3 linked regions of the Homo sapiens genome follow. The protein of the gene in region 1 interacts with the protein of each later gene in a biochemical or structural test. Each region holds a gene or a part of one and is shown in the gene's direction. Other genes may lie near its edges. The genes, in order: RHBDF2, USP13 and TRIM31.

What was found.
Region 2: the proteins of RHBDF2 (region 1) and USP13 form a complex in vitro, tested with the Homo sapiens proteins (one study listed by BioGRID).
Region 3: the proteins of RHBDF2 (region 1) and TRIM31 form a complex in vitro, tested with the Homo sapiens proteins (one study listed by BioGRID).

The regions. Positions count from the first base shown.
Region 1 is NC_000017.11:76,470,383-76,477,487, reverse strand, and holds the end of RHBDF2 (inactive rhomboid protein 2), read left to right. Parts: intron 1-189; coding exon 190-308; intron 309-463; coding exon 464-658; intron 659-2,346; coding exon 2,347-2,458; intron 2,459-2,683; coding exon 2,684-2,758; coding exon of another isoform or gene 2,759-2,828; intron 2,829-2,953; coding exon 2,954-3,115; intron 3,116-3,345; coding exon 3,346-3,455; intron 3,456-3,585; coding exon 3,586-3,649; intron 3,650-3,745; coding exon 3,746-3,840; intron 3,841-4,160; coding exon 4,161-4,236; intron 4,237-4,382; coding exon 4,383-4,483; intron 4,484-4,648; coding exon 4,649-4,802; intron 4,803-5,435; coding exon 5,436-5,855; 3' UTR 5,856-6,592; downstream 6,593-7,105. UniProt on the Homo sapiens protein: Regulates ADAM17 protease, a sheddase of the epidermal growth factor (EGF) receptor ligands and TNF, thereby plays a role in sleep, cell survival, proliferation, migration and inflammation. Does not exhibit any protease activity on its own.
Region 2 is NC_000003.12:179,739,943-179,747,047, forward strand, and holds part of USP13 (ubiquitin carboxyl-terminal hydrolase 13), read left to right. Parts: intron 1-304; coding exon 305-430; intron 431-2,254; coding exon 2,255-2,408; intron 2,409-5,100; coding exon 5,101-5,275; intron 5,276-7,105. UniProt on the Homo sapiens protein: Deubiquitinase that mediates deubiquitination of target proteins such as BECN1, MITF, SKP2 and USP10 and is involved in various processes such as autophagy, endoplasmic reticulum-associated degradation (ERAD), cell cycle progression or DNA damage response.
Region 3 is NC_000006.12:30,103,017-30,110,121, reverse strand, and holds part of TRIM31 (E3 ubiquitin-protein ligase TRIM31), read left to right. Parts: intron 1-1,073; coding exon 1,074-1,096; intron 1,097-1,934; coding exon of another isoform or gene 1,935-1,953; coding exon 1,954-2,069; intron 2,070-2,334; exon of another isoform or gene 2,335-2,459; intron 2,460-4,734; exon of another isoform or gene 4,735-4,879; coding exon 4,880-4,954; intron 4,955-5,954; coding exon 5,955-6,020; intron 6,021-6,332; coding exon 6,333-6,586; 3' UTR 6,587-6,876; coding exon of another isoform or gene 6,877-6,917; 3' UTR 6,918-7,105.

The DNA.
Region 1 (7,105 bases):
AGGGTGAAGACCTGCGGTGGGGCACAGTGCCACCCGGGAAAGTCACCATTGGGGCTGACGGGCATGTGGCTTCCCAATTCATTGTGAAGAGCCCGTCTGTTCAGCTGTGTCCTGCCCTTGAATTGAGGTTCCGGGGGGCAGTGTTTGGGACAGACTCCTTACACTGTATTTTCTTGTCCCCCACCCCAGGAAGAAATGAGCTCCATGCCTGATGATGTCTTTGAGTCCCCCCCACTCTCTGCCAGCTACTTCCGAGGGATCCCACACTCAGCCTCCCCTGTCTCCCCCGATGGGGTGCAAATCCCTCTGTGAGTGCTGGGGCAGAGTCCCTCCTCCAGGCCAGCCACCAGCCTGGGGGCATCCCCAGACCTCACCCTGGCCCCCAAGCCCCTTCTGAGCACCCTGGTGGGGTCTGGGAGTATTTTGGTGGGGGATTCAGGCTGAAAGCCACCATCCCCACCAGGAAGGAGTATGGCCGAGCCCCAGTCCCCGGGCCCCGGCGCGGCAAGCGCATCGCCTCCAAGGTGAAGCACTTTGCCTTTGATCGGAAGAAGCGGCACTACGGCCTCGGCGTGGTGGGCAACTGGCTGAACCGCAGCTACCGCCGCAGCATCAGCAGCACTGTGCAGCGGCAGCTGGAGAGCTTCGACAGCCACCGGTGAGGTGTCGCCCTGGAGCCCCCAGGAGAGCCTGGAAGGTTCCAAATTCCTCTGGGCCCTCCTGAAGCGCCCCCTTACTCATTCAGCAAGTGTTTCATGAGCATCTTCTGCGGATCAGGAGTGTAGTGACAAGCTCGAAGGCGCACCCTGTCCCAAGGGTTGTGCACATGACCTGGGAAGGGCCAGGGGTGCTTGCTGCCTCTCTTCCACCCCATGCTTTCTGAGCCTGGTCCCCAGCCTTGCTCCCAGACAGCAGTCAGTCAACAAATGTTCATTGAGTGTCACTGCCTGCAGGCCCTAAAATGGAACCCCCAGAGGGTGGAGCAGGGAGGGCAGGGTCGGTCAGAGGACAGTTAGAAGCTGGGGCCAGGGCTGGGCGCCGTGGCTCACACTTGTAATTATAGCACTTTGGGAGGCTGAGTCAGAAGGATTGCTTGAGCCTAGGAGTTTGAGACCAGCCTGGGCAACATAGTGAGACCCTACCTCTACTTTAAAAGAAGAAGCTGGGGCTGGGAGGGAGGGGACTCTGGGAGAGGCTATGCAGAGCCCTTGGGGAAGAACAGGGCATCTGATTTGCAGCAGCCCAATAAACACTGGGCCCAAATTAGAAAATAACAAGCAGGCAGGGCGCGGTGGCTCACGCCTGTAATTCCAGCACTTTCTGAGGCCGAGGCAGGCGGATCACCTGAGGTCAGGAGTTCAAGACCAGCCTGGCCAACATGGTGAAACCCCATCTCTACTAAAAATACAAAAAATTAGCCGGGCGTGGTGGTGCATGCCTGTAATCCCAGCTACTCGGGAGGCTTGAGGCAGGAGAATCACTTGAACCTGGGAGGCAGAGGTTGCAGTGAGCCAGGATCGCACCATTGTACTCCAGCCTGGGCAACAAGAGCGAAATTCCATCTCAAAAAAAAAAGAAAGAAAAGAAAAAGAAAATAACAAGCAATGGCCAGGCCCGGTGGCTCACACCTGTAATCCCAGCACTTCGGGAGGCCTAGGTGGGCAGATCACCTGAGGTCAGGAGTTCGAGACCAGCCTGGCCAACACAGTGAAAACTGGTCTCTACTAAAAAGACAAACAAAATTAGGCAGGTATGGTGGGTGCTTGTAATCCCAGCTACGAGGGAGGCTGAGGCAGGAGAATCGCTTGAACCTGGGGGCGAAGGTTGCAGTGAGCTGAGATCGCACAACTGCATTCCAGCCTAGGTGACAGAGCGAGACTCTGTCTCAAAAAAAAAAAAAGAAAAGAAAAGAACAAGCAATGATAGGTGTGGTGGGTGTCCCGGAGGAGGATAGAGAGGGAGAGTGAACAGCTGGTGGGGAGGGGTGCAGTCAGGACAAACTGTGATGTCATGTGCAAAGGCCCTGGGGCTGGAAGGGCAAAGTACATCCCAGGAAATGCAGGCAAAGAGGCCAGAGAGGTGGTCGGTCAGGCAAAGCTTTGCAGCCAGCAAGAGGGGGTGATTCTGGAATTTGTCCCAAGGCCAGTGGAAAGCTATCAAAAGGTTTTAAGCTAGGAGAGAGATGCTTGGAGGCTCGTCTTAAAAGTTCCTCTGGTTTGAGATGAGTTGACGGGGCAGAACAGGGAGCCCAGGCGAGCCATGTGACCAGGCCAGGGTGGCCCTGTGGCCGGGACTGGGGGTTGGGATAGGAGCTCGGCTCAGCTGACCCGAGGTGTCTCTGCACAGGCCCTACTTCACCTACTGGCTGACCTTCGTCCATGTCATCATCACGCTGCTGGTGATTTGCACGTATGGCATCGCACCCGTGGGCTTTGCCCAGCACGTCACCACCCAGCTGGTGAGTCGGGTCAGGCTCCATGCTGGGGGTCCCAGCCTCTCCTAGGAGGCCTCAGTGTCGTGGGTACCTAATCCCTCCCACCGCAACAATCTGGCCCCAGCAGGGTGGTGCTCACCATAGCCTGGCCCCTTCCTGGAGGCTCTATCCTGGGGACAGCTGCCCCAGCTCCCCATGCCCAGGGCCCACACTGTTCTGACGCCCTCCTCTGTGCTACCTCCACGATAGGTGCTGCGGAACAAAGGTGTGTACGAGAGCGTGAAGTACATCCAGCAGGAGAACTTCTGGGTTGGCCCCAGCTCGGTGAGGGCCCAGGCTGGGGGACATCATCTGAGCCAGGAGTCCCTGTGCCCTGTCACTCCCAGCTGGGCAGGTGGGCTCCTCACCCACCCGCAGGCCCCTCATCAGGGGAGACTCTGCGGGGCAGAGGTGGAGTGATGGACCCCTCCCAGGTCTGGGGCTCAAACTCACTCTCTCCCCTCCCTTTCCCTTCCCCAGATTGACCTGATCCACCTGGGGGCCAAGTTCTCACCCTGCATCCGGAAGGACGGGCAGATCGAGCAGCTGGTGCTGCGCGAGCGAGACCTGGAGCGGGACTCAGGCTGCTGTGTCCAGAATGACCACTCCGGATGCATCCAGACCCAGCGGAAGGACTGCTCGGTGGGGGCAGGCCCTCCCTCCTACCCCTGCCAGACCCTGGTCCCGGACTAGCTCCACTTGCCCTGTCCTTCAAGGGCAGTGACCACGTTCCCTCCTCCCCGCCCCACCTTTCCCAGACCCCCATAGATGAGACTGAGCCCTGGGGAGATGGGAAAAGCCTCTGTCCTTGCCCACTCCAGTGGGGGTGACCTGGCCCCGACATGACCCACCAGCCTTCTTCTGCCCTCCAGGAGACTTTGGCCACTTTTGTCAAGTGGCAGGATGACACTGGGCCCCCCATGGACAAGTCTGATCTGGGCCAGAAGCGGACTTCGGGGGCTGTCTGCCACCAGGACCCCAGGTAGGGCCTGGAGCCTCTGCTGGGCCTCAGGGTCAGGCATAGCCATGCCATCTGAGCCACCCACAGGGACGTGGGTAGGTGGACGTGGCACGCTGGGTGTGCCACAGCCCAATCTGAACCCTGTCTCCAGGACCTGCGAGGAGCCAGCCTCCAGCGGTGCCCACATCTGGCCCGATGACATCACTAAGTGGCCGGTGAGTGTCCCTGGCGGGGAGTGGTCTGGGAAGGTCAGGGATGGGGGACCTGCCTGCTGCACAGCCCACTTCCCTGCCGGTGCCCCCTCCTGGCAGATCTGCACAGAGCAGGCCAGGAGCAACCACACAGGCTTCCTGCACATGGACTGCGAGATCAAGGGCCGCCCCTGCTGCATCGGCACCAAGGGCAGGTGAGCGACCTGGGCCCTGGCCTCAGCCATCCCACTGCCCCCCCGAGCTGCGGCTTCCTGTGGGCCCTCTGCTCCTCCACCGTCACCACCCACAGCCGCTGGGCCGATGCCCTCCAATAACTGTCCTTTGCTCCCCTGCTCTGGGGCTACCCATGGTGCGAGCTGGAGGAAGGAAGCTTGCTCCAGAGTCGAAGGTTCTGGATGCGGCATCCCCCTTCCTGCCAGCGATGCCTCCTGTAGCCAGGTGCTGGGCTCTGGGCAAAGGTGGGCAGTGGTTATTCGGCGCCCTGATGTCCCCTCTTGCCTCACCACCCCCTTAGCTGTGAGATCACCACCCGGGAATACTGTGAGTTCATGCACGGCTATTTCCATGAGGAAGCAACACTCTGCTCCCAGGTGAGGCGAGGCAGGCCTGGAGTAGTGGAGGAGAGGACGCTGGGCATGGCAGCCTGCTGGGGCCGGGGCTCACGCACTCCCTCCCATGTCGGAGCCTCAGACTCAGCCTGCTTCTGGGGCGCTGAGCACCATATGCCCACTCCCAGGTGCACTGCTTGGACAAGGTGTGTGGGCTGCTGCCCTTCCTCAACCCTGAGGTCCCAGATCAGTTCTACAGGCTCTGGCTGTCTCTCTTCCTACATGCTGGGTAAGAGGCTCCTCACTGCCCCCGAACCCGACCCCTGTGATGGCCACCCAGCCGGACCCCTGGGGAAAGGTTCCTGGGCCAGGGCATGGCCGGCCCAACCTGCCGAAGCCTACTGCTCCTGAAGTGCCTGGCTGAAGGCCGCTGCCTGGTGTGTCCCTCCCCCAGCGTGGTGCACTGCCTCGTGTCTGTGGTCTTTCAAATGACCATCCTGAGGGACCTGGAGAAGCTGGCCGGCTGGCACCGTATCGCCATCATCTTCATCCTCAGTGGCATCACAGGCAACCTCGCCAGTGCCATCTTTCTCCCATACCGGGCAGAGGTAAGGATGTGGAGGATGGGACCCCTTCCGCACATAGGGGGCCAGCCCTGCTGCTCCTATTCCACCCACCTGGGATCTGCCAGAGGGACACGGTGCCCCTCCTGTACTGGGCTCCACAGCGGAGGGACAGCTAATCTGGGGGCTTACTGGCTGGTCTCTTAATCCCAGTGAGAGGGAACAGTGATGCTCTTGAGTCACCCTGTCCCTCCACCGCCTCATTTATCTTCCTAACCGTGCCCACTGCCTGACAGTATGCTAGGTATCTGCAGGTCGAGCGGTAGGAAATGGCCTCCGTGCGCCGTCGGCAGTCTGATCAGTTCCACCTGACTGATCTAGTTTGTTCAGTGTCCGTCCTCTCCCCACCGTGTGCGGCCTGGAACAGGCTTGTCTGTCTTGCTTATTGCTACGGACCCACACCAGGCACGTACACAGTAGGCGCTCAGTGTTTGCTGAAAGAATGGGCGGAGCAGGCCCAGCTTTGGTCCAGCAGCTCCAGCCGACCCCCTGCCCCTCAGCCTCAGGGGTCCCCATGCCTGCCAGGGAGGAGCTGATCGATGGGATGACCCAGGGTGCAGGCCCGGCCCAGGCCACCCACCTGATGCCTGAAGCCACGTCTCCCCTGCCCCGCCCCAGGTGGGCCCGGCCGGCTCACAGTTCGGCCTCCTCGCCTGCCTCTTCGTGGAGCTCTTCCAGAGCTGGCCGCTGCTGGAGAGGCCCTGGAAGGCCTTCCTCAACCTCTCGGCCATCGTGCTCTTCCTGTTCATCTGTGGCCTCCTGCCCTGGATCGACAACATCGCCCACATCTTCGGCTTCCTCAGTGGCCTGCTGCTGGCCTTCGCCTTCCTGCCCTACATCACCTTCGGCACCAGCGACAAGTACCGCAAGCGGGCACTCATCCTGGTGTCACTGCTGGCCTTTGCCGGCCTCTTCGCCGCCCTCGTGCTGTGGCTGTACATCTACCCCATTAACTGGCCCTGGATCGAGCACCTCACCTGCTTCCCCTTCACCAGCCGCTTCTGCGAGAAGTATGAGCTGGACCAGGTGCTGCACTGACCGCTGGGCCACACGGCTGCCCCTCAGCCCTGCTGGAACAGGGTCTGCCTGCGAGGGCTGCCCTCTGCAGAGCGCTCTCTGTGTGCCAGAGAGCCAGAGACCCAAGACAGGGCCCGGGCTCTGGACCTGGGTGCCCCCCTGCCAGGCGAGGCTGACTCCGCGTGAGATGGTTGGTTAAGGCGGGGTTTTTCTGGGGCGTGAGGCCTGTGAGATCCTGACCCAAGCTCAGGCACACCCAAGGCACCTGCCTCTCTGAGTCTTGGGTCTCAGTTCCTAATATCCCGCTCCTTGCTGAGACCATCTCCTGGGGCAGGGTCCTTTTCTTCCCAGGTCCTCAGCGCTGCCTCTGCTGGTGCCTTCTCCCCCACTACTACTGGAGCGTGCCCTTGCTGGGGACGTGGCTGTGCCCTCAGTTGCCCCCAGGGCTGGGTGCCCACCATGCCCCTTCCTCTTTCTCCTCCTACCTCTGCCCTGTGAGCCCATCCATAAGGCTCTCAGATGGGACATTGTGGGAAAGGCTTTGGCCATGGTCTGGGGGCAGAGAACAAGGGGGGAGACACAAGTAGACCTCAGGTAGAACGACACTGGGCGGAGCCACCCCAGGGCCTGCTCCCAGGGAGTGCTCGAGGCGCATCAGGCCCGTTTTTTACCAGTTTATATCACGGTCTTCATTTTTAAAAGTAACGCTAACTTTGTACGGACGATGTCTCATGGATTAAATAATATTCTTTATGGCAGTACATTGTCTTTAACGGAGACCTCAGGTAGCATGAAACTGGGATTTGGGGGTGAGGTGAGGGGTCAGCCATCAGCTGCTCAGAGACAGCAGTTTGGCCCGGTGGACAGCAGAAAACTTGTGGAGCATCTTGGGGAATTAGTTGGGCCAGAAAGCAGATTGGGGTCACGTGGGAGACCCCAGGGGTCCACTTGGGAGGGCTGGGTTGAATCCTTAGGGCCCTGGGGTTCCCACCCCTACCTGTTCTGCCTTGGCTCCAGAGCAGGGAAGGGGCTGCCTGGGCCCAGGGTGGCCTGCCCTGATGGGGATGGCACTGAGGGGACCTGTCACCCCACCCGGGGACGAGTCCACTCCCTGTGCCAGTGCCTCACCCACCACACTGAGGATGGCCAGTGAGGCACCGGGTATGACCACTTGATTACCATGGGCAGAGGGCCCTGCACCAGCTTCCCTGCCCCAAGCTGCCTCTACAGCACAGGCCTCCCGCCTCTGCCCCATCCTGCTGCTCCCCACT
Region 2 (7,105 bases), on another chromosome or scaffold:
TGTGAGAATGAGCCGAGTGCCTGACTTTAGAAAGTGAGTACTTTCTAAAGTGTGTGTCACCTATTGTCCTAGTTTTAAGTAAACAGGAAGAGTCTCATCCTGTGTTCTTCATAAGGTTCATAGTGCAGGGCCTGGCACATAGTAAACACCCAGCGAGTATTGGCCACTATCATTATTTACCTTCTTTGGGCTGTAGTTTTCTCATCTGGAAAGTGGAGTTTATGGTGGGTTCTGCTCTGCTTGCCGCTTAGGGCTGTTAATTTGCATGAAAGTATCATAAGTCCATTTCATTTTTATACATTAGCCACAGCAGAACGGGATCTCTCCGCGCATGTTTAAGGCCTTTGTAAGCAAGAGCCACCCGGAATTCTCCTCTAACAGGCAGCAAGATGCCCAGGAATTCTTCTTGCACCTGGTGAATCTAGTAGAGGTGAGTAGTCAGTCTTCACGGATGCTCAGCGGGGTTGTAAGAGGGTGCCGAGCCACTCAGTGCAGTCTGCTGTGGCTTGATCAGAATGCCTCCCCACTCTCTTTCTTCAATCTCTCCTGTTAAAGCTGGTTCAGAATCAGATCCCTGGAAACTCTCTGCTCAGCCAACTTGATGTGACTGCTCTTCACACTCCAGTTTCCAGACACTTGTGGATCTCTGTGCTTCTTTTAACCTGTATGTGTTATAGGAGTGCTTGCCAGTTATTCCATTCACAATTTATTTTTTTCTGGTCTTTGTGACAAAGTTCCTTAAGAGCCCTGCGTGGTATTTGGTGTCCTCCTGCCACTGCTCAAAGATGATGAGTCTGCTTACATCAGAATCGAATGCCATTAAAAACTTTTTTTTTTTTTTTGAGACTGAGTCTAGCTCTGTTGCCCAGGCTAGAGTGCAGTGGCACAATCTTGGCTCACTGCAACCTCTGCCTCCTGGGTTCAAGCAATTCTACTGCCTCAGCCTCCTGAGTAGCTGGGATTATAGGAGCCTGCCACCACGCCCGGCTAATTTTTGTATTTTTAGTAGAGATGGGGTTTCACCATGTTGGTCAGGCTGGTTTTGAACTCCTGACCTTGTGATCCACCCGCCTCGGCCTCCCAAAGTGCTGGGATTACAGGTGTGAGCTGGAAAGCCACTGAGAATTCCTGAGTAAAGCCTTTTTTTTTTTTCCTGGTTACAACAGTGTTCTTTGTGGAAAATATAGAAAACACAAAGGAGAACATCAAAATCCCCCTTAATGCCACGCCCTGCAGCCAGCCAGTGTTTTTTGTTTGTTTGTTTGTTTGTTTGTTTTTGTTTGTTTGTTTTTGACAGAGTCTTGCTCTTGTCGCCCAGGCTGGAGTGCAGTGGCACGATCTTGGCCCACTGCAACCTCCGCCTTGCAGGTTCAAGTGATTCTTCTGTTGTTTGTTTCCTTGTTAGAACTAGGCTGCAGTGGTTTCTCTTGTCTGCCTCAGGGTTACTGATTCACATGTCTGCTCAGGTCCATGATCTTTTCTAACTCTGTTTATCATTTATTAGTGATAACTTTTTTTTTTTAGAATAAAGCCTCCCGAGTAGCTGGGATTATAGGCACCCACTACCATGCCTGGCTAATTTTTTTGTATTTTTAGTAGAGACGGGGTTTCACCATGTTGGCCAGGCTGGTCTCGAACTCCTGACCTCAGATGATCCACCCGCCTCCGCCTCCCAAAGTGCTGGGATTACAGGCATGAGCCACTGTGCCCGGCCAACAGCCAGTGTTCACAGGTTGGCATCTGCCCCTCCCATCACTTTCCAGGTCTTATGTTAATTCTCTACATGCTCTTCTGTAAGCAGTGTTTTCACTTAAATGTTTGCCACATCATCACATCTGTTAACAGAGCATAATTTCTGTTTTATTTGTACCTAATTTACATGAGTGTATTTATATAATCATATTGTACATGTTTTTATGTTTCCAGGGCAGCCCTTTATTTTTTTCCCTTTCTCTTTTGATTGGCTTCTCCTCCTCCTTTCTTCTCATTCCATGAATTTCTCTCCCATGGTTTTTAATTTAATAATATTGAAATAGTAATCCATGATGAACTATATTTTATTTTACCAATCCCCATTTTTGGACTTTAGATAAATTCCAGTGTTTTTCTATTAAAGTGCTTTGGTGAATGGGCATGGCCAGAGGAAATGTTTAATAAAGCCAAGTGTTTACACCGGGTTTAGAGTTCATTTTCTACTAAGTCTTAGTGGCTCAATATTCATACATTTACTAACCTGATACAATCCATCCTTCAGAGGAACCGCATCGGCTCAGAAAACCCAAGCGATGTTTTTCGTTTTTTGGTGGAAGAACGCATTCAGTGCTGTCAGACCCGGAAAGTCCGCTACACGGAGAGGGTGGATTACCTGATGCAGTTACCTGTGGCCATGGAGGCGGCAACCAACAAGGGTAACAATTCCAAAGCGGGAAATTGGTACTGTGTGTCTTCATATGGGAAAACCCTCAAATCAGAGAGAATGGTTTAGTCACTGAAGTGTGTCAGGAGTAGACCCAGCCCAGGTGATGTCTGCTTTGCACATCTCTTTTCATCTCTTTGTTAGTTCCCATGTGACTTTTCCTTTGAGAAGAATCAAATGCATCACAGGTTTTATGGAGGCGTTATGGTTGGAACCTACGTCACTGCCTATAAATTTGGCCAACTACTGAATATGGAGTCAGCATAATTTTGGGGAAAATTATTGGTAATGATGTATGTAGAAAATTCTTTAACACTGTCATTTATAAGTTGTGCTATAAAGTCTGAGGGAAATGATCAGGACTGCATTTTTTAAAGTTAGACATTCGAGCAGAGGTCTCTTGAAATAATCCAGCTTTGGCACATGAGTATTTGAGCCACCTCTTCTGGGAGATAAATTGTGTCAGGGTTCTTTGTAGAAGCAAAGCCCATTAGAAGGGTCTCTGGGCTTTGGAAGAGAGAAGGAGGCAGAGATGTGGCACTCATGTTTGGTGCCTTCTCCTTCCATCAGTCTAAGCTGGTTCTTCCTAGGCAGAATAGACAAATGGCATTTCTTCGAATTAACATCGTAGAAGCAAAAAAGACAAAATAGCTGCTGGATTGTGCATCTCCTGTGAACTAGTCATTTTTGTAAAGTTCAGCAATTCCACTATGCAGCCATGAAAAGGAATGAGATCATGTCCTTTGCACATGGATGAAGCTGGAAGCCCTCATCCTCAGCAAACTAACACAGGAACAGAAACCAAACACCGCATATTCTCACTCATAAGTGCGAGTTGAACATTGAGAACATATGGACACAGGGAGGGGAACATCACACACTGAGGCCTGTTGGTGGGTGGGGGGAAAGGGGAGAGAACTTAGAGGACAGGTCAGTAGGTGCAGCAAACCGCCACGGCACACATATACTTATGTAACAGACCTGCACGTTCTACACATGTATCCTGGAGTTTTTTTGTTTTTTGTTTTTTTTTTTGAGAATAAAGAAAAAAAAATTCAGCGGTTCCCTGGATGGCCCTTTTTGCTCTTTCTTGTGTGTGGGGGGTGGTGGGTCAGTTTATGATGTTAGTTGGAAAGTGATGATTATGATGATTTAAGATGAAACGATTTTCATTTTCTATATGCTCATGCAGTTTTTGATCAGTTTCAAAATCCTTTTGGTGTAGAAACAAGGGAATGGGAGTCTGCTGTTTGTTTCCTTGTTAGAACTAGGCTGCAGTGGTTTCTCTTGTCCGCCTCAGGGTTACTGACTCACGTGTCTGCTCATGTCCATGATCTTTTTTTAACTCTGTTTATCATTTATTAGTGATAACTACTTTTTTTTTTCAGAAAGGAGATTTATAATTTAGTCTCTGGAATTTGACTGTTGGGAACACCTAATGTTAGCAACCTAGATATAAGTACATCATAAACTGATTGGGGACAGGGGAATGAATTTTAAACCATCTAAGATGTGTTTAGGAAAACACATATGTGCGTAAGTGTACCTACAAACTGATAAATAAGGAGTTTTTTTTTTTTTTTTTTTGAGTAATACAAAAGAAATGACCAGAAAGGCCATTCAAATTGACATAAAATTTTGACTACAGGCTAGTTTCCAGGACCAGATCTGCTGGTGCTTGGGAGGTTCCTCTTTTTCCCTTAGTATTTAATCATTTGAGTAGGAATAGCACAGAGGCCTTCTGGGTTGGTAGCCCTGATGTCTGAGGTGTTGGGTAACCTCCACAGGAAGTTGTCTCGGCAGTGTTGGTTACTGTCATGGGTTGTTTGATGGTGGCTAACTGCAGTCCTGTAGTTATCCTCCTCCTTGGCCTCACAGGGACCCATGTGGGACCCATGACCTCTAATCATAGTTGCTGGTGGAACCAAATCAGAAAATGTGTAACACTCGATCTGGCTCTTGCCAGGCGCTTAGTGGTGGTTCTGTTTTTTTTTTTGTTTTGTTTTGTTTTTTTCTGCCTTTGGTTATTTTATTTTAAAACAGCTTAAAGTTAACAAGAATGTTTTTGTTACTTTTGTGTATGTGTGTGTGATCATTGGCAAAAATTGATCCCCTTACACAATGTAACATCTCTTTCTGGCCTTATCTGTTGGGTTGTGGAGGGAGTGCTGATCAGAGTTTTAAGTCCAGCTTTGCCAATAATTGGCTGGTTTTGACTTTGGGCCTCAGTTCTTCAGCAAGGCAGTGAAGGACTGGGAAGACGTGAGCCCTTGGACCTTTTCTGGCTGTGAAATACTCTGATGCGAAGGCCTTGTGTTGGGAGGATGGCATTTGAATAATCCCAGTATTGGCCTTTGGACAAACCAGGTTCATGGGCATTTATATCACACACATGGTCTGGCCCTCTCACCCACCCAGGCCAGGCCAAGCTCACACTTCCCTCCTGTCAGTCGCAAAGGGGAGCATGCAAAAAGATGTAAATGGCTTGATACCACCTGTTGGTGCAACTCTAAAGACAGCCCCAGAACAGCCTTTCAGCAGGGGCATCTGGCTCTGTAAAGGGCGACAAATAAGCAACTCTGGCCCAGCGCAGAAGCCTTCAGGGAAGACTGTCCAAAGAGGGTGCTTTTCATTTCCACAGGGTAAGAGCGATTGCAAGGTCTTTGATTTGCTCTTTCACCCAGATGAACTGATCGCTTATGAACTAACGAGAAGGGAAGCAGAAGCAAACAGAAGACCCCTTCCTGAGTTGGTACGTGCCAAGATACCATTTAGTGCCTGCCTTCAGGCCTTCTCTGAACCAGAAAATGTTGATGATTTCTGGAGCAGTGCCCTACAAGCAAAGTCTGCGGGTGTGAAGTAAGTGTGTGTATATGTGGTGGCAGTGGGGTGAGGAGGGGCCTTGAGGGGTGGGGACAGGGGTAAGGGAAAGGGGGTGGGTGTTATTTGTGTCTGTGTGTGTTTGTTCATGTGTGATGGATGGGATTATGGTTCACACACCCTAACTGTCGTCAAACTTCACTTGTGTGAGACCTGTCCAATAAAACAGGCCTGTGATTTATATTACGTGCTAAGGAGGGGTTTTCTTTTTTCTTTTTTTAAATGTAAGGTTGTGATTTATTCTCTATTAGGAGCCTTCCTTCCTTCCTTCCTTCCTTTCTTTCTTCCTTTCTTCCTTCCTTCCTTCCTCCTTCCCTTCCTCCCAACCTTGACCCCACCCCCAGCCCCTCTCTTACCAAGAGGATACAGCCAAGAAACAATCCCCTACCCGCAAATGGCAAGAATGACATTATTCATGAAGAAATTACAAAAATGCTGAAGACAGGCCTCCATATTTAAACTCCATTGTGCTATATTTTAACTCCATAATTAAAGACTTAGTCTAGAACTTGGTTGGCTATGTTTCTCCTTGGAGACTAGGAGTCTCAGGACATCTCAAAGTGGACAGGAAGTCTCCTGAGCATTGTTGAAACGAGCCGCTCAGGGTTTAGTCAGATGTCTTGTTTTCACATTGTGAGGCTGGTTGTCAGACACATAAAAGTTTTTTTTTCTCCGTCTGCCACCCTAGTTGATTTGATGCAGTCGAGTCCTTGCCAACACACTTCATATCACTGCACTTAATTGGAAAAAGAGTGCTTGCAGTGGCATAAAACAAAGGGAGGTCTGAAAGTTTGGCTCCAGGAGTTTTGCTACGTTCAGATATTCTTTGGCCATTTTTCTTTGAGGCTAAGATTGAGATTTTGGCTAACATAAAGGGGATTAAAGGATGGAACGGCTGGTGTGGGCTGTTTTTACCATGGCCTCAATAGCAGTTCAACCTATATATATATATATAAAATTTTATATATAAAATGTATATATATAAAATTTTATATATATACATATAATATATATAAGTATTATATATATTTTTTAGAGGGAGTCTCGCTCTGTCACCCAGGCTGGAGTGCAGTGGCATGATCTTGGCTCACTGCAACCTCTGCCTCCCAAGTTCAAGCAATTCTCCTGTTTCAGCCTCCTGAGTAGCTGGGAATGCAGGCACATGCCACCAAGCCCGGCTAATTTTTGTATATTTTTTTTTGTTTTTTTTTGAGACGGAGTTTTGCTTTTGTTGCCCAGGCTGGAGTGCAGTGGCACAATCTCTGCTTGCCACAACCTACGCCTCCCAGGTTCAAGTGATTCTCCTGCCTCAGCTTCCCGAGTAGCTGGGATTACAGGCCTGTGCCACCATGCCCGGCTAGTTTTGTATTTTTAGTAGAGATGGGGTTTCTCCATGTTGGTCAGGCTGGTCTCGAACTCCCAACCTCAGGTGATCCTCCCTCCTTGGCCTCCCAAAGTGCTGGATTACAGGCATGAGCCACCGCACCCAGCCAATTTTTGTTTTTTTAGTGGAGACAGGGTTTCACTATTTAGCCAGGCTGATCTGGAACTCCTGACCTCAGGTGATCTGCCCTCCTCAGCCTCCCAAAGTGCTGGGATTACAGGCATGAACCACCATGTCCGGCCTCAACCTATATTATTTGTTCTCTGTGAAACCCCTCCCTCAGGCTTCTGCTATGTTTCAGATTGTAGAGTTCATATGTTAAAAACAGGAAAGCAAAAACAATTTATTTCAAAAAGGAAAAACAAGCCATATTTGTTAAAATTATTTTTAAAAAGCTCCCTATCCAAGGGAGATTAATAGTAGTT
Region 3 (7,105 bases), on another chromosome or scaffold:
ATATTATCCTTTCAGCCTGTAATGAATATTTTAAAAGTATTAATGAGATATTTCACATTCTGGGTTTTTGGTGGTTTTTTTTTTTTTTTTTTTTACACTGAGTCTTTGAAATTGTGTGTATATTTTTCACTTTGGCACATCTCAATTCAGATGCTAAATTGTCAATTGTTAAAGTAAAATATAGTCTTACCAAATCAATAAAGTTGTGTTTAATGGAAAAAGTACTTTACCCTTCTTCTATTTATTTTATTTTATTTTTTGAGATGGAATCTTGCTCTGTTGCCCAGGCTGGAGTACAGTGGCGCGATTTTGGCGCACTACAACTTCCGCCTCCTAGGCCCAAGTCCCAAGTAGCTGGGATTACAGGTCCCCACCACCACGCCCAGCTAATTTTTGTATTCTTAGCAGACACGGGGTTTTACCATGTTGGCCAGGATGGTCTCGAACTCCTGACCTCAAGTGATCTGCCCACCTCAGCCTCCCAAAGTGCTGGGATTACAGGCGTGAACCACCGTGCCTGGCCTCTATTTTTAATTTAAATTTGAATTAGTAAAAATGAAATTAAAAATTCAGTTCTTTGTCACACTAGCCACAATTTCCAATGTTCAGTAGCCACATGTGGTTGGTGGCTACCATATTGGACAGTGCAAGTCTAGCTGGTGCTTAAAATAAGCTGAGATGATTCCTCCTCAAGTCATCTATTCTCCCACAGGTTCAAAAACCTATTTATTTATTTTAAGAAAGATCATGCAAAGCCATTCTAGCCTTTCTCCTGCCCTGGCTAGCAGGCTCCCTTGTTCAGTCTCAGAGCCAAATTCATCTTCTAAATCTCACTCTTCTCTTCTTCACTCAGTTCTTCTTGAGGTCAAAACACTTTTCTGCTTACTGGCAGAGCAGTGCTTCTTGGAGAAGCCCTTCGTGGTGGGGAGAGGGGAGGAGGATGGGGTAAGAGAGACTTGGAGGGGTTCTTACTCCTCCTGCTCTGCCCCACACCCAGCAGGCTCTGTATCTCCTCCTTGGCTCCTGGGAATCAGCCAAGTGCTGAGGCTGTGCTGTTTCTCTTTCTCTTCTAGGATATCAAAGTCGTCTTGTGCAGGTATGATGGGCCACCCCAAATGTATTTTGCCTACTGATTCATCCACACACAATTCTCAGCGTATATCCAAATGCAGTCAACATTCCTCTCTCAGAAATACCCACCCACCTCTAACTCTGCATTCATACATTTAGGCTGCAGCCGGGGAATGCCTATGCCAACCATATTAGCACGTGGTTGGTTGTTAAAGAAACCAGCTGTTTTCTCAGCCTTCCTCCTTCTTCAGCACAGATTCTACTATTTCCTGAATGCCCCCTTGCTCAACTGAATAGCTCCTGGGTCCCCTACTCTGTCTCCCTGACCCTGTTTTTTTCCCTCCTCTCTGTCTCCATCTCCCATCTTCATTTCCATATCTCCCTATGCCCTACCTCACTCCCGCCCCATATCCCTAGCCCTGACTTTCTGACTCCCAGCTCACTATCCCTTAACCGCCAGGTCTTCTTTTTTTTTTTTTTTTTTTTTTTTTGAGATGGAGCTTTGCTCTTGTTGCTCAGGCTGGAGTGCAGTGGTGCAATCTCAGCTCACTGCAACCTTTGTCTCCCAGGTTCAAGTGATTCTCCTGCCTCAGCCTCCCAAGTAGCTGAGACTACAGGCGCTTGCCACCAAGCCTGGCTAATTTTCATATTTTTAGTAGAGACCAGGTTTTACCATGTTGGCCAGGCTAGTCTTGAACTCCTGACCTCAGGTGATCCACCCGCCTCAGCCTCCCAAAGTGCTGGGATTACAGGTGTGAGCCACTGCTCTCAGTTCTACCCCCAGGTCTTCATCCCCTCATTTCTCAACCGCGTATCTCAGATCCTCCTTCTCCCACACCTCATCCCCTGATCTCACCAACCAGCTCAACCACATCTTCCTAGAAGTGAAGAGTTTCAGTTTCTCAACCCAACCCCTGTTCCTCTGGAACTGGAGAAAAAACTCAGTGAAGCAAAATCAAGACATGACTCCATCACAGGGAGCCTAAAAAAATTCAAAGGTAAGGAAGAGGCTGTATTTTCTCTATTCACCTACTTCCAGGAGATTCTCTCCCTGCTCACTCCACTGAAATGGAACTGTGACTCATACATGCCAACAATCCCTGGGCCCTTCTAGTGCCAGGCTTCTGGCTGAGTACTTTCCACGCATCAGTATGCCTCCTCCCAGGCATTTCTTATATTCTGTCTTTGTGATATGTTATTTATCTGCCTCCCTGACTCCTGCGAGAGCCATAGAGGGCCTGGACCTATTCCCCATGTGGACACCTGGCCTAGAGCAGTGGCTGTTGGGAAGTTGGTGATGAGTTGTCTGGTGGACCAGAGATGGCCTCAGGCAGGGACTGTCATCTCTGACTTCTCCTTCTCTGGTGCACACTGGTGTCTCCTCCTGCCTACAGAAGAAGAGAAAATAAATTCAAAATCAGTGACATTCTGGGGAGAAACCTCTTCCAGCCTTACAGGGAAACAGAAATCAGCAGAACAGTAGTGGATGACTTGGGTTTTAGATGTTCGCCAGATATTTTTCATAAACCTTTCTGTGTTTGCAACTAGGAAGAAGGGTTAGTATTTGTAAGGACTCCCCTTAATGTGAAGACTGTGTTGGTCTAAGGTGGGCATAAAGACAGCTAGATGGAATCTTCTGAAATTATCACCTGGAGTTCCACACCCACCTCCCCCACCCCAACCCCCAGCCCCCCATACACAAACACTTCCCCTTGGGACTACGGAAAAGGAGGACCAGGGCAATGCCCCAAGATCTCCACCCATTCAGCCGGGAATCTCCACTCGGCAGACATAAACAGGAAAGCATGTTTTGTTTTATTCTTAATTTTGTTGTCTGAGCTTTTCTTTTGTCCACTAACTGCTCTGCTTTGTCTAGCTCCTCCCACCCCACTGGGCATGATCTCAGCCGATCTAGCAACTTTATTTATTTGTTTATTTATTTATTTATTTTTGATGGAGTTTTGCTCTTATTGCCCAGGATAGAGTGCAGTGGCGCAATCTCGGCTCACTGCAACCTCCGCCTTCTGGTTTCAAGCGATTCTCCTGCCTCAGCTTCCCAAGTCGCTGGTGTTACAGGCGCACACCACCATGCCCAGCTAGTTTTTTGTATTTTTAGTAGAGACGGGGTTTCACCAGGTTGGTCAAGCTGGTCTCGAACTGCTGACTTGTGATCCACCCGCCTCAGCCTCCCAAAGTGCTGGGATTACAGGCGTGAGCCACCACGTCCAGCCCGATCCAGCACCTTTCTAGGCTCTTCAGGTCAAGAATAGTTTGGTTCTAGTTTGGAATTTCAATAAAGGAGCCCAGCCCTTTCCACTTCATCAGGTTTGGAGTTGGGGAGACTGGTGTGCTCTACTCTGTATCCCCCTTTTCTTTCCCTCTTTCACATACACAAACTCACACACACACAGTCCCCCAACTCCCACCTGGCCCTATTTCCTTCTTTTTTTTTTCTCTTATTTTTATTTTATTTTTACCCCAAAGAAGAAGGCACAATGGCCACCTGGCCCTATTAAAGCCTAGGAAATACAGGAGGTGGTAGGGAGTCTACTTATACCACAGGTCCAATCTCCACAGTTCTTATTATGAGGGTTGGTTCTCCCTGCTCGGGGTGACTGGGTCTGGAACACGTACGTGGAGAAGGGTGTGGCTGGGCCCTGAAGCCGCTAAAGGCCCTTGTAGGTGAAGTGCTCCCAGGCAGTGTTTCCTATGCTCTAGGTTTGCAGACCCCTCCTAAGAGGGCCCCCGCGTCTCCCCTGAGCAGTCCCCATGACTGGGCTGGTGGCTCTCAGGGAAGCTACCCACGCTTGTCCCACTACCTAGCCCCAGGCTGTCTTGTGCTGTCTTGGGGCTGCAAGACACTGGGGGAAGGGTGCTGGGGCCAGAAGTAGCTCCCCATCTAGGGGCTCCACCCTATAGTTCTCCACTCAGTCCAGCACCCCTACAGGAAATCTAGGCCAGGAATGGGCCATTGTCCCCAGCTTCTGGGCTCATCCTCTACCTGCAAAAGGAGTCTCTTCTGGCAGGGGTGAACTGGGAGATGAAGGCACTCGGCCTCCCCTTGCAGGAGCTCTGTCTTCGTTCCCCCTCTCAAGCCCTCTTTCATGGGAAAGAGGGCAGGACTGCCATCCAGGCTTTAGGAGAGTGGGGCCCCCCCTTACCCCACCTGGCTCCTGGGTGGTTAGCCCTACAGTAGGCCTTCTGAAGCTAAAGGGTGAAGCCTCAAGGCACTCTTTGTCCTGAGCACCTACCTTTGTCAGGCAGTGAGAAAGGGGCTAGCTCTGCACTGTCCAATTTAGTAGCTGCTAGCCACATGTGCTGACAGGCACTTGAAATGTAGCTAGTCCAAATTTAAACATGCTATATGTGAAGAATCATTAATTTCACAAGATTGAGTGTAAAAAGAGACTGTAAAAGATAGCAATAATTTTTATAATACATGTTGAAATAACATTTTGAGAATATTGAGTTAAATAAAATATATAATTAAAGTTAATTTTACTAGTTTCTTTCTACTTTTTAAATGTGACTACTAGAAAATTTAAAAATATATAAGTGGCTCACATTCGTGACTCAGATTACATTCATCATTCATACTGGACAGTGCTGGGCTAGGCAGTCACCACAGGAAATCAGAAAGGGCATCTCTCAAGGGTTGCATACCTTCCTGGTCCAATAAGAATATGAGAGTCAAATGCAGCTTCTACTTCTCCCAGGCATTTCAAATTAGTGCCTTGCTGTGTGATAGTGAGTTCTTTGCTCAACCCCTCTGGACTCTCACCATTTCATCCCATTCTTTATTCCCCAGACCAACTCCAGGCTGATAGGAAAAAAGATGAAAACAGATTCTTCAAAAGCATGAATAAAAATGACATGAAGAGCTGTAAGTGAGAAATGATGGTTGGTTGCTTCTGCCATTTGGGGAAAGTGAGAAAAGGGGAAGAATTGTGTCTCTATGATTACATGAAGGCCAGATATAAGTGAATGCCGATTCCTCAGCCAATTGAGAGAACAGGCATATGGTTGTTTTATTATTTTAAACTCAGGTAACTCACAAAACAGTCACTAATCCCAAACTTTGAAGTATTCAGAAGTAATAGAAAATTACAAATGTATTTCTTCACTCCTAGAGACAGGGAGGAAAAAGTGGGACAAGAAGGAGGCAGCTCCACCTCTGTAGTATTTGCTGCCCCTACAGGGCAGCAGGTTTCGAGGCAAACTCCTCTGGGTGTGAGGTCAGTACAGCTCAGGGGATGGAGACCCACTGTAATAACAGCCTGTGCTAAAGTCATTAGATATGGTTCTGCCACCTAAGACAATAACAGTAGAAGTACCATTTCTTAAAGGACCACTATGTGCGCATCTAATATTTCAAAACCCCACAACTATCCTCCAAGATAGGTGTTATTATCTGCAACTTACAGTGAGGTCCATGTAGCTTCCGGGAGGGGAGGTAAGTTACCCAGGTCATATGATCATTAAGTGAAAGAGAGAGAATTAGAACTCCTTTCTCCAAAGCCAGAAACTACAGAATGCATTCCAAAGCCAGAGAGCAGGATTTAGGGATCCTATTCCACCAGCATTTCTCCACAAAAGGAGCTACCGGTGTTTAGAAAGGCCATCTTTGTTATGCTCCATGACTTTTGCCCTGTTAAATGCTTAGTATCCCAGGCCCCAGAAAGCCCTATAAGCCAGTAGAGAACCACACTCTTGTTGTCACTGAGACAACCTGAAAGGTTTCCACACTTCCCCCTGGGTGGGGAATGGGTCCCACTGAGAACCATTGACTGTTCTGATTGATGATGGCAGGGTGCTTGTTTTTGTTTTTAATTTGCAGCTTCTGGTTATCAAGACCAAATAGGTTTTCTCTCCCCAATTTTTAGGGGGCTTGTTACAGAAAAATAATCATAAAATGAACAAAACCTCAGAGCCCGGGTCATCTTCTGCAGGTAAGAGTCCTGTCTCTGAATACTAAGGGACCTCTAAGTCTACAGGTGGTCAAAATGCTGTATCCACCCAATTCCACTAAATGGAATAAATGAATAAATGAATGAATTCATTTATTCCATTTCCTCAGTTCCTCCCCAAATTACACCTCTGCCAGGAAACAGAGGGCGCTCCGACTTGTTCAGGTGTACTTTCTTGAGTTTCACCTCCATCCCTCCTGCTGTATGTAGAGCTCAGCTGTGCTGTCTGGCAATGGAGGATTGCTGCCGAGGTGCTCCCGCTGACCTCTTTTCTCCTTTCCTTCTCCCGCAAAGGCGGCAGAACTACATCGGGGCCACCAAATCACCACTCTTCAGCCCCATCCCACTCCCTGTTTCGGGCCTCGTCTGCTGGGAAAGTCACTTTTCCAGTATGTCTCCTGGCCTCTTATGATGAGATTTCTGGTCAAGGAGCGAGCTCTCAGGATACGAAGACATTTGACGTTGCGCTGTCCGAGGAGCTCCATGCGGCACTGAGTGAGTGGCTGACAGCGATCCGGGCTTGGTTTTGTGAGGTTCCTTCAAGCTAAGCCAGCTCAGAGAACACGGGGAGCGGTGGTGCTACACGGACTTCGGAGCATAGAGTGGCGCTGAGTGAGTGGCTGAGACCGACCACGGTTCTTGACTTAGTGGAATTGGGTCGAAGGAGTGGAGAATGGGAGGGCTCGGGCTACTGAGAGTGGAGATGGGGGCGGGGGTGGTGGTGAAGAGAGTTGGAGAAGGAATGGACGAATTCTTGAGCAAAAGGAGGGGAAGAGACAATCTCCAGCCACCCGCCCCACGCTTGACTTCTTATCACTTTGGCTGTGGTGCCGCCTAGTGGAAAAAGGAAGTCCCTGCAGCAGTCCCCGCACTCTTTAAGCAGCTGTTTACCGAAGGCACCAGTTCAGCCAGGAGTGAAATCCGGAGAGGAGCAACGCCAGCCTGGGTCACAGTCCATCAAACCCCATGAGCCCGACCACTCTCGCTCTTCCTTACATTCCCACGTCCCCCTTCTCTCCCAACCCCTCATATCAGCAAGGGAAATTAATTAATGAGATTTGATAAAT